2 linked regions of the Homo sapiens genome follow. The protein of the gene in region 1 purifies or fractionates together with the protein of each later gene. This does not show direct contact. Each region holds a gene or a part of one and is shown on either strand. Other genes may lie near its edges. The genes, in order: ZSCAN23 and SCAND3.

What was found.
Region 2: the proteins of ZSCAN23 (region 1) and SCAND3 purify together in Homo sapiens (affinity purification with mass spectrometry; one large-scale study listed by BioGRID and IntAct). This does not show direct contact.

The regions. Positions count from the first base shown.
Region 1 is NC_000006.12:28,433,448-28,437,272, forward strand, and holds part of ZSCAN23 (zinc finger and SCAN domain-containing protein 23), read right to left. Parts: intron 2,897-3,825; 5' UTR 2,820-2,896; coding exon 2,412-2,819; intron 2,161-2,411; coding exon 2,013-2,160; intron 1,632-2,012; coding exon 1,018-1,631; 3' UTR 1-1,017. UniProt on the Homo sapiens protein: May be involved in transcriptional regulation.
Region 2 is NC_000006.12:28,570,194-28,574,018, forward strand, and holds the end of SCAND3 (SCAN domain-containing protein 3), read right to left. Parts: intron 3,635-3,825; coding exon 1,718-3,634; 3' UTR 342-1,717; downstream 1-341.

The sequences.
Region 1 (3,825 bases):
TTTGGGTGTATTCCAAACCAGATTGTTTTCACCATAGGTTTTCCATTTCTTTGTCTCCTGGACCTTGTGTAAAGCTTTGTAAAGAGTTACTAAGTCAATGTTAAGGGAAATAAATTTTTTTATTTATGATCTTGGTGGTAATCAATAGTAAATGCTGAGAAAATGTGGAGGTTATAAAAACAATCAACATGAAAGAGTGATCATACTCTTCTCTTCAATCTTGAATATGTTTCAAATTTTCCATACAAAATATTGAATAAAGGAGAAAAAGGCAAAAACAAAAAAATGCTCATTATATGTTACGGGAAAAATACAAAGAGGCCTGTATTTTCCAATAAGAAATCTGAGGTGAGATATCAGATTTTTAGCTAAGTTTCTTAGCCTCTGCGTAAATTTAAAATCATGAGCAATATTTGTTATGAGGAGCCACTGAGCTGCTAATAACATATGGCTGCTTCAGTTCCTTGGTTCCTAAAGGCTAACTAAAAAATCTATAGAAATCTAACTTACTATAAATCTACATTTATATAGGAGGATTCATCTGCCCCTTTTTGTAGGTTACAAAACAAATTATCATATTTTATGTGAATGGAAAGAAGTCAGGAAACCTATATTATGAATTTTATTACAATTATTTTTAAGTTAATTTTTAAATACTCGGTGAACTGCATTTGAGATTATTTTGTACTCAGCCTACATATAACTATTTTAAACTTTTAAAAAAAGTTTTTAAAAACTAGGATGAAGAAGTTTTCCTGAAATAGAAAACTTCTTGCACAGATGTGTGTGAAACTAGGTCTACAGCATACATGATGAAATCAACACAAGAGGCAACATTCAGTATTGCAAAGCTGTGGATGTCACTGATCAGAGAACTCGGCAGATGTATTTAAGATATTATGCTTCTCTCTGCATAAAAGTAAGGGAATTTTTACTGGCTTTCCCTTGAACTTTTCTATGCTAGAGGACACAGCAGGGACAAAGTAAGAAATATTATCCCCTACCTGTTCCAAGGAGCTAGCTTGATTCAGCCACTGGGTGGACTTTCCGATGCTGGATTAGGTTGCAATGGTAAATGAAGTTCTTGCCACATTCTTCACATTCATAAGGTCTCTCTCCAGTGTGAATTCTCTGATGCTTAATGAGGACTGAACGTCGACTAAAACTCTTATTGCACTGATTGCACTGGTAAGGCTTCTCCCCAGTGTGAATTCTGAGGTGATGGAAAAGCCCGGCATTCTGGCTGAAGGCTTTGCCACAAACACTGCACTGGTAGCGCTTCTCCCCAGTGTGGAGTCTCTGGTGCTGGAATAGGCCTGACCTCTGGCTGAAGGCCCGCCCACACTCATCACATTCATAAGGCTTCTCACCTGTGTGTGTTCTCTGGTGCTCGATAAGGATGGAATTCTGGGTGAAGCTTTTTCCACATTCACTACAGATATAGGGTCTCTCCACTGAAGAGCTCACCCTTTGCTTTTCCAATCTGCCCTCACGGTCACAGGTATCTCCATACTCAGGAATCTGAGTAATATTACCATTCTGTTTTCCAAGAACTTGTATAAGAGATTTCACTTCCTGAGAAATCTCCCTCTTTGGGGCTAACTCCACATTCCAAGTCCCAGCCTTGCCATCTAAAATAACGATAACATGAAAGATAACATGAAGTATGAAAAATAACAGATTATCTTTCCAAAGACAAAAGAAAAAAAGTGGCCAGGAGAATGGGTGGAAGGGGACAAGTAGCCACTTTTTCTGTTTATTTTTCCACTCTAAAGCTATTATACCCAGACCTCAGGGAAAAGATGCATGGTATTATAACTGCTTACTTAATTGTCTGCCTCTCCCACTAGACTGTAAACTTCGTGAGAGTGGGGACCACATCTGCCTTGTTTATCACTGTATCCCTGGTACCTGGCACAGTGCCTGGCATACAGCAGACACTAAATAAATGGGTTGAATTGATAAATATTCAGGGAATGAGGTAGGCTGTCTGAGGAAATCCTGATCCTCACCAATCTCTTGAACTGGGCACACCTCTCGCAAATTATACCCAAGTTGCTCTTCCAAGGTTTGGAATTGGTCATTTGATGACTCCTGAGCTGCTCCTGGAGTTGCCTTCTCCTTTACAAACTCTTCCTGTTCATGAGCATGGCTCAGGACCTGGTGGAAATCAAGGACAGTTGGGAACCCAATATCAGAGAGAACATGGCAAGGAGGCCTCCTCAGGGCCGCTGGATAGAAAAGAAGGACCAAGAAGCTGGCAAAGAAAAAACAGAGGCAGAGAGACTAAAAGCCTACAGAAGATCAAGTCTGGCATAAAAAAAAAATCCTCCTCCTCTACCTTTTCTTGTTGCACTGAAACCCCATACTTGTTCTTATAGGTACAAATCCCTGTTCTCCCATCTTCTCACCTGCTCTCCTGGGTCATCCAGCTCTCTCTCCAAATCCTCCAGCACAGTCACTGCCTCCTCTCCACTCACAGGACGGTGCTGTCTGACCCAGGCCTGGAGCTCCTCAGGCAGGATAGTCAGGAACTGCTCCAGCACCAGCAGCTCTAGGATCTGCTCCTTGGTGTGCATCTCTGGTCTCAGCCACTGATGGCAGAGCTCCTGGAGTCTTTGAAGAGCCTCCCGGGGCCCAGGGGACTCCTGATAGCAGAACTGCCTGAAGCGTCTACGAAAGATCTCTCTGGTATGAGGGTTATTTCTTGACAGGCCTGATTCTGGCCCACAGGAATGTTCCTCCTCTTCCTCCTTTACCTTCACTGCCAGAAGTCCTTCCTGCATCTCTGCAGTCTGAAGGGTCAAGGTTATGGCCATCAAAGGTTTAACTATTCAGAAAAATAATCTATTCTTGATAATTCTCCCTTGATCTTTTCTTCTGGAAACCCCGAGATCTAGACAATAATTTACGAAGAAAAAAATATAAAAATGCAGAAAACCTCAGGACAAGGAGGGACTGGAGTATTTACACTAAAATCAGTCACTCTGTCTCATGAAGGAACACCAAAACCTGATTAATGATAGATACTTTAGAAATACAAATCCAGATAATATAGGAAGAAAAAAGAAATGGAACAAAAACGCCTACAGTTTTCTGAAGGAAGGTACTGTTTCAATCATCCTGACCGAAACAGCTCAAATCAGCTTGAGTATATTGGGTTTCCATTTGAATAGCAAGATACTAAATTCAGGGTAAATTTTAGCTGTATGAAGGTAAAAAAACACTTTGGGCCCAAGTGGTCACAGATGACACCAAGAATCAAGAAGAAAAGGGAAACAAATGGAGGATGGAGGGAAAGTAAAGAATATAAAAAGAATAAGAACCGTAAGAAATGCACTTGGAGAGAGGAGGCAGAGTCCCTCCAGCCATAGAAGGTAGAGTCCCTCCAGCCATAGGAGGTATGGAGGAGGGAGATCTAGGTTTAAAGTGTGTAAGGTCTTGGACTGAGACATCAACCTGCAGGTATTCCCTCCAGAGTCTTGGGCTTCATGTTTTGAGCCTTGGTCTCTTCAATCTATAAAACAGGAATCCTAAAACCAACACTGCCTATCTTTCTAGGTTGATACAAAGATAAAACGAGGATAATGAGCACAAAGAAGTTGGCTACTTAGTAAACTCCAAAGTGGTAACACTTATTTTTCTTATGTTATTGTATGATTAAATGAATATCCTAGTGGTTTAAGGCTAAGGCAAAAGAATCAGAAAGTAGTTGACTGCAGTGGTCTAGGCTCAGAGATACTAAAATGACGGAAATATTGGTTCCAGTACTTTAAAACAGGAGTAGAATTTGACCTTTCTCTTGCCCTTTAATTTCTTTGAAAC
Region 2 (3,825 bases), 140 kb from region 1:
CTTAGAGAGAAAGTAAGGGAATTTAGTTCTCTTTTAATATGTACTCTTAATTCCCTCTTAATTTCTTCCAGACTACTTTAAGTTTTTATAGAAATAAATATAAAATCACCACATTGCCTTTTGAAATTAAAAATGGGAAACACAATACTTTATTCAATCAATAAAACAAACTGTAAAACATTTTAAAATCCCTTAGTTCTAGAATATGGTCAGATAAGAAAGAGGGCATATAATTTGTCAGTGGGAGAAATTAAACCACTGTCTTCTAAATCTATCCACCATGATAAGGTTTTTTGTTTTTGAAAAGCTGTAAGATTAAAACAAACACACAATAAAACATAATCCAATTAAGGTTTCAGGACTAAATATGAACCTTTCCTCTACTTTCAAAGGTTTGGAGGATCCTTGAAACTTCCATTACCAAAAGGTTAAATTATTAGTAACATTCTGAATCACTAAATAGCCTTCCTTTCCTTAACTTTGAATATCACATTTATTTGAAACGAAGCACTTACTGTAAATTGCTACCCTGTCTAGGAAAAGATATTTTCTTCATGGATTCTGTCATGTTTTGATGCTAAAGAACCTGTTTTATCGGACTAATTTGCTTTCGATTATTCTAAATGAGTTCACAGACACAAGAGCAGATATTTGTGGCATTTTTCTGAATCATCTCCAAACAAAATAGAGGTTGTTAAATCTAATTGAGGTGCCAATAATTTCTGACTTTGTCCCAGAGCACCTTAAAGGCAATCAGTTCTAGCAAAATCTAGAAACCACCTAACATAAACTTGTCAGTATGGCCCAATCGCCCATCCTTATGAAATCAGAATTTATCGGCCGGGCGCAGCAGGTCACGCCTGTAATCCCAGCACTTTGAGAGGCCGAGGTGGGAGGGTCATCTGATGTCAGGAGTTCAAGATGAGCCTGGCCAACATGGTGAAACCCCATCTCTACTATAAATACAAAAATTAGCCAGGCATGGTGGTGGGTGCCTGTAATCTCAGTTACTCGGAAGACTGAGGCAAGAGAATCACTTGAACCCAGGAGGTACAGGTTGCAGTGAGCAGAGATTGCACCAATGCACTCCAGCCTGGGCAACAGAGCAAGACCCTGCCTCAAAAATAAATAAGTAAATAAATTTATCAATATGAATCCAAGGCCATAACACCATTACAAAATAAGTGTTCCCTTCCATCTTTGTCTAAACATGCACCTACAAAACAAACAACATCAACTTCCAACCTAACCACTCTGGATCAGTTTAACAAACTTCATACCCTACTGACCTGTCCCCTGCATTTGAATTCTAAGCCTACCCCTTTGAATTCACTTCCTTTCACTGACCTTGTCTATTTCAAAGAAACCATCTCCCATCCTGAAGTTGTCCTACAATCTTAACATGCTAATGAAATACAAGAAGAAGACACAAAATATAAGATCAAATGTTTTAATATTAGAATCAACAGATTTAAAATTATATTTTAATAAATACGACAAATATGAGGAAAAATAGAATTATAAAAACTGTACACATTCTTAATTGAAAATATACATATAGGCAATTTATATAGAAAATTGCTGTTTCACTCATAACTTCTCATACTTCCATAACTGTAACTAGACAGAAAGTTTAAAGTGAAATAGCAAATTCCTCACACTCAATGCTTATATGCATACTTTGAACCAATACCTTACATATCAATATTTAAAGCTTTTAATGTGATAAGTGAGCTTGCTTCTTGCTTGTTAATTTGTCTAATCTAGGTTGGATTGATGACAATGCTACCCTCAGGGGATAATGTATATTTAAACTGTTTCTATGTTTTGTTTTAATAACACTTAAAGTAGAGAATCCGGTCTCACAGAGGTATGTTGAGGGGAAAAGAAGCAGCAATTTTAAAGCAATCTCAGCAAGCTCAGGATAGTCATTTTTAGCTTTTATCCAAAATGAAGGAAGTGATGCTGTATTTTCAAAACTGATTTTCAATCCTTCGTCGGTAGCCAGCTTCAACAACTTATCCTGTAGAGTTACAGTTAAATTTAAGTTATCTTTTGATGAAAGAAATGGATTTTGGATCCACAAATTTCCTATGCGTGGATCTTCTTTTGATGGAAAATAAAATTCAAAACATTCTAACAAATTTGTAAGATGTTCACTGATAACTTTTCGCAGATGTGCAATATCAAGATCATTACCTACTTCATTGATAATTGTTGTTAAATTATGAAACATGTCATAACAATCTGTAGAAATTCTGTTTTTCCAAGCTTCTAACTTCTGTTTTTGTCCTTCAACTTTATCTGCCATTGAAAAATAAGTTGCATTCTTCCCTTGCATAGAAGCATTAAGATCATTAAAAATACTGAAGATATCAGACAAATAAGCAAGTCTGGCTGTCCAATTCACATCTTTAAAAAGTTGGGACCACATGGGTTTCTTGCCTTGCAGAAACACTAAGAGTTCATTTCGTATTTCAAACATTCTTGACAGAACTTTTCCCCGTGATAACCACCGTATCTCAGCATGCAGTAACAGTTGCTTATGATCAGCTTCCATATTATCACATAATAAAGAGAATAATCTTGAATTCAATGAATTAGATTTTATATAATTCACAATTTTTACTATATCATTAAGTACACTATTTAGTTCAGCTGATATTTTTTTCATGGCAAGACTTTCTCGATGAATGAAGCAATGTGTTGTTTTACATTCTGGCGCAAGTTCCTTAATCTGGGTTACCACTTCAGAATGTTTTCCTGTCATTGAAGCTGCACCATCAGAACATACTCCTACACAAAATTTAAATTCCAAACCACATTTGTTAACAATATAATTCTTTACAGCTTCATACAGTTCTGAGCTAGTTGTGTTTGTAGGCAAAGAGGCTGAAAAAAAGAACTCTTCCTTTATATCATCATCATGTTCAAACCTCACATAGACTAAAAGAATTATCATGTTAGCAATATCTCTGCATTCATCAAGTTGCAATGAAAAATACTTTGCTAGTTTTATTTGTTCTATGAGTTGATCTTCCATATCATTAGCCAGTTCCTGAATACGTCGAGCTATGGTGTCATTGGAAAGTGGTACCTGAGCTACCTTCTTTGCTGCAGATTCACCCAACATTTCCAAGCAAACTTCTTTGATGCAGTCTTTCACTAGTGTCTCAGCAATTGTGTATGGTGTTTTAGACTTGGCAACCGGAAGTGCTACTTTATATGAAGCCCGCAAAGCACTAATGTTTATATGAGAAACGTTGAACACCTGCTTTGGTTGGCTTTTCAATTCACTACTCTTTCTTTCAAAGAATTCTTTTGGTTGTGAACTTATTTCTTTATGTTTTGAATATAAATGTCGCTTAAGTTTTGATGGTTTCATTGCTTCATTAGCCAGTACATCTCCACAAATAATACACTGTGGTTTTAGTACTTCACCATCAATTACAGCTACAAAACCAAACTCAATATATGAAGGATCATATTTCCGAGTGAAACTAGCATGAACTCTTTTGGTTTTCCCTTCTTCAGGATAACTTCTATTGTTAACATTTCTTTTATTACTACTACTGTGTTCAGAAAAGGCATGTCTTTTCTTGACAAAAAAGTCCAGTGAAGCTTGTTTCGCCATCTGAAATTAGGAATAAAAGTAAATAATATGAATTTTACTTTCCTCCTTCAGCTAACAGTGTTATACCACAAGTTAAAAACTAGATTTGATTAAAATAAAAAATTATTTTAAAGTTAAGTTATAAAAATAAATAAATGCCTATATTTTCTCAGAGTTTTATACATCTTTGGGTTATGGCTGATAAACGAAAC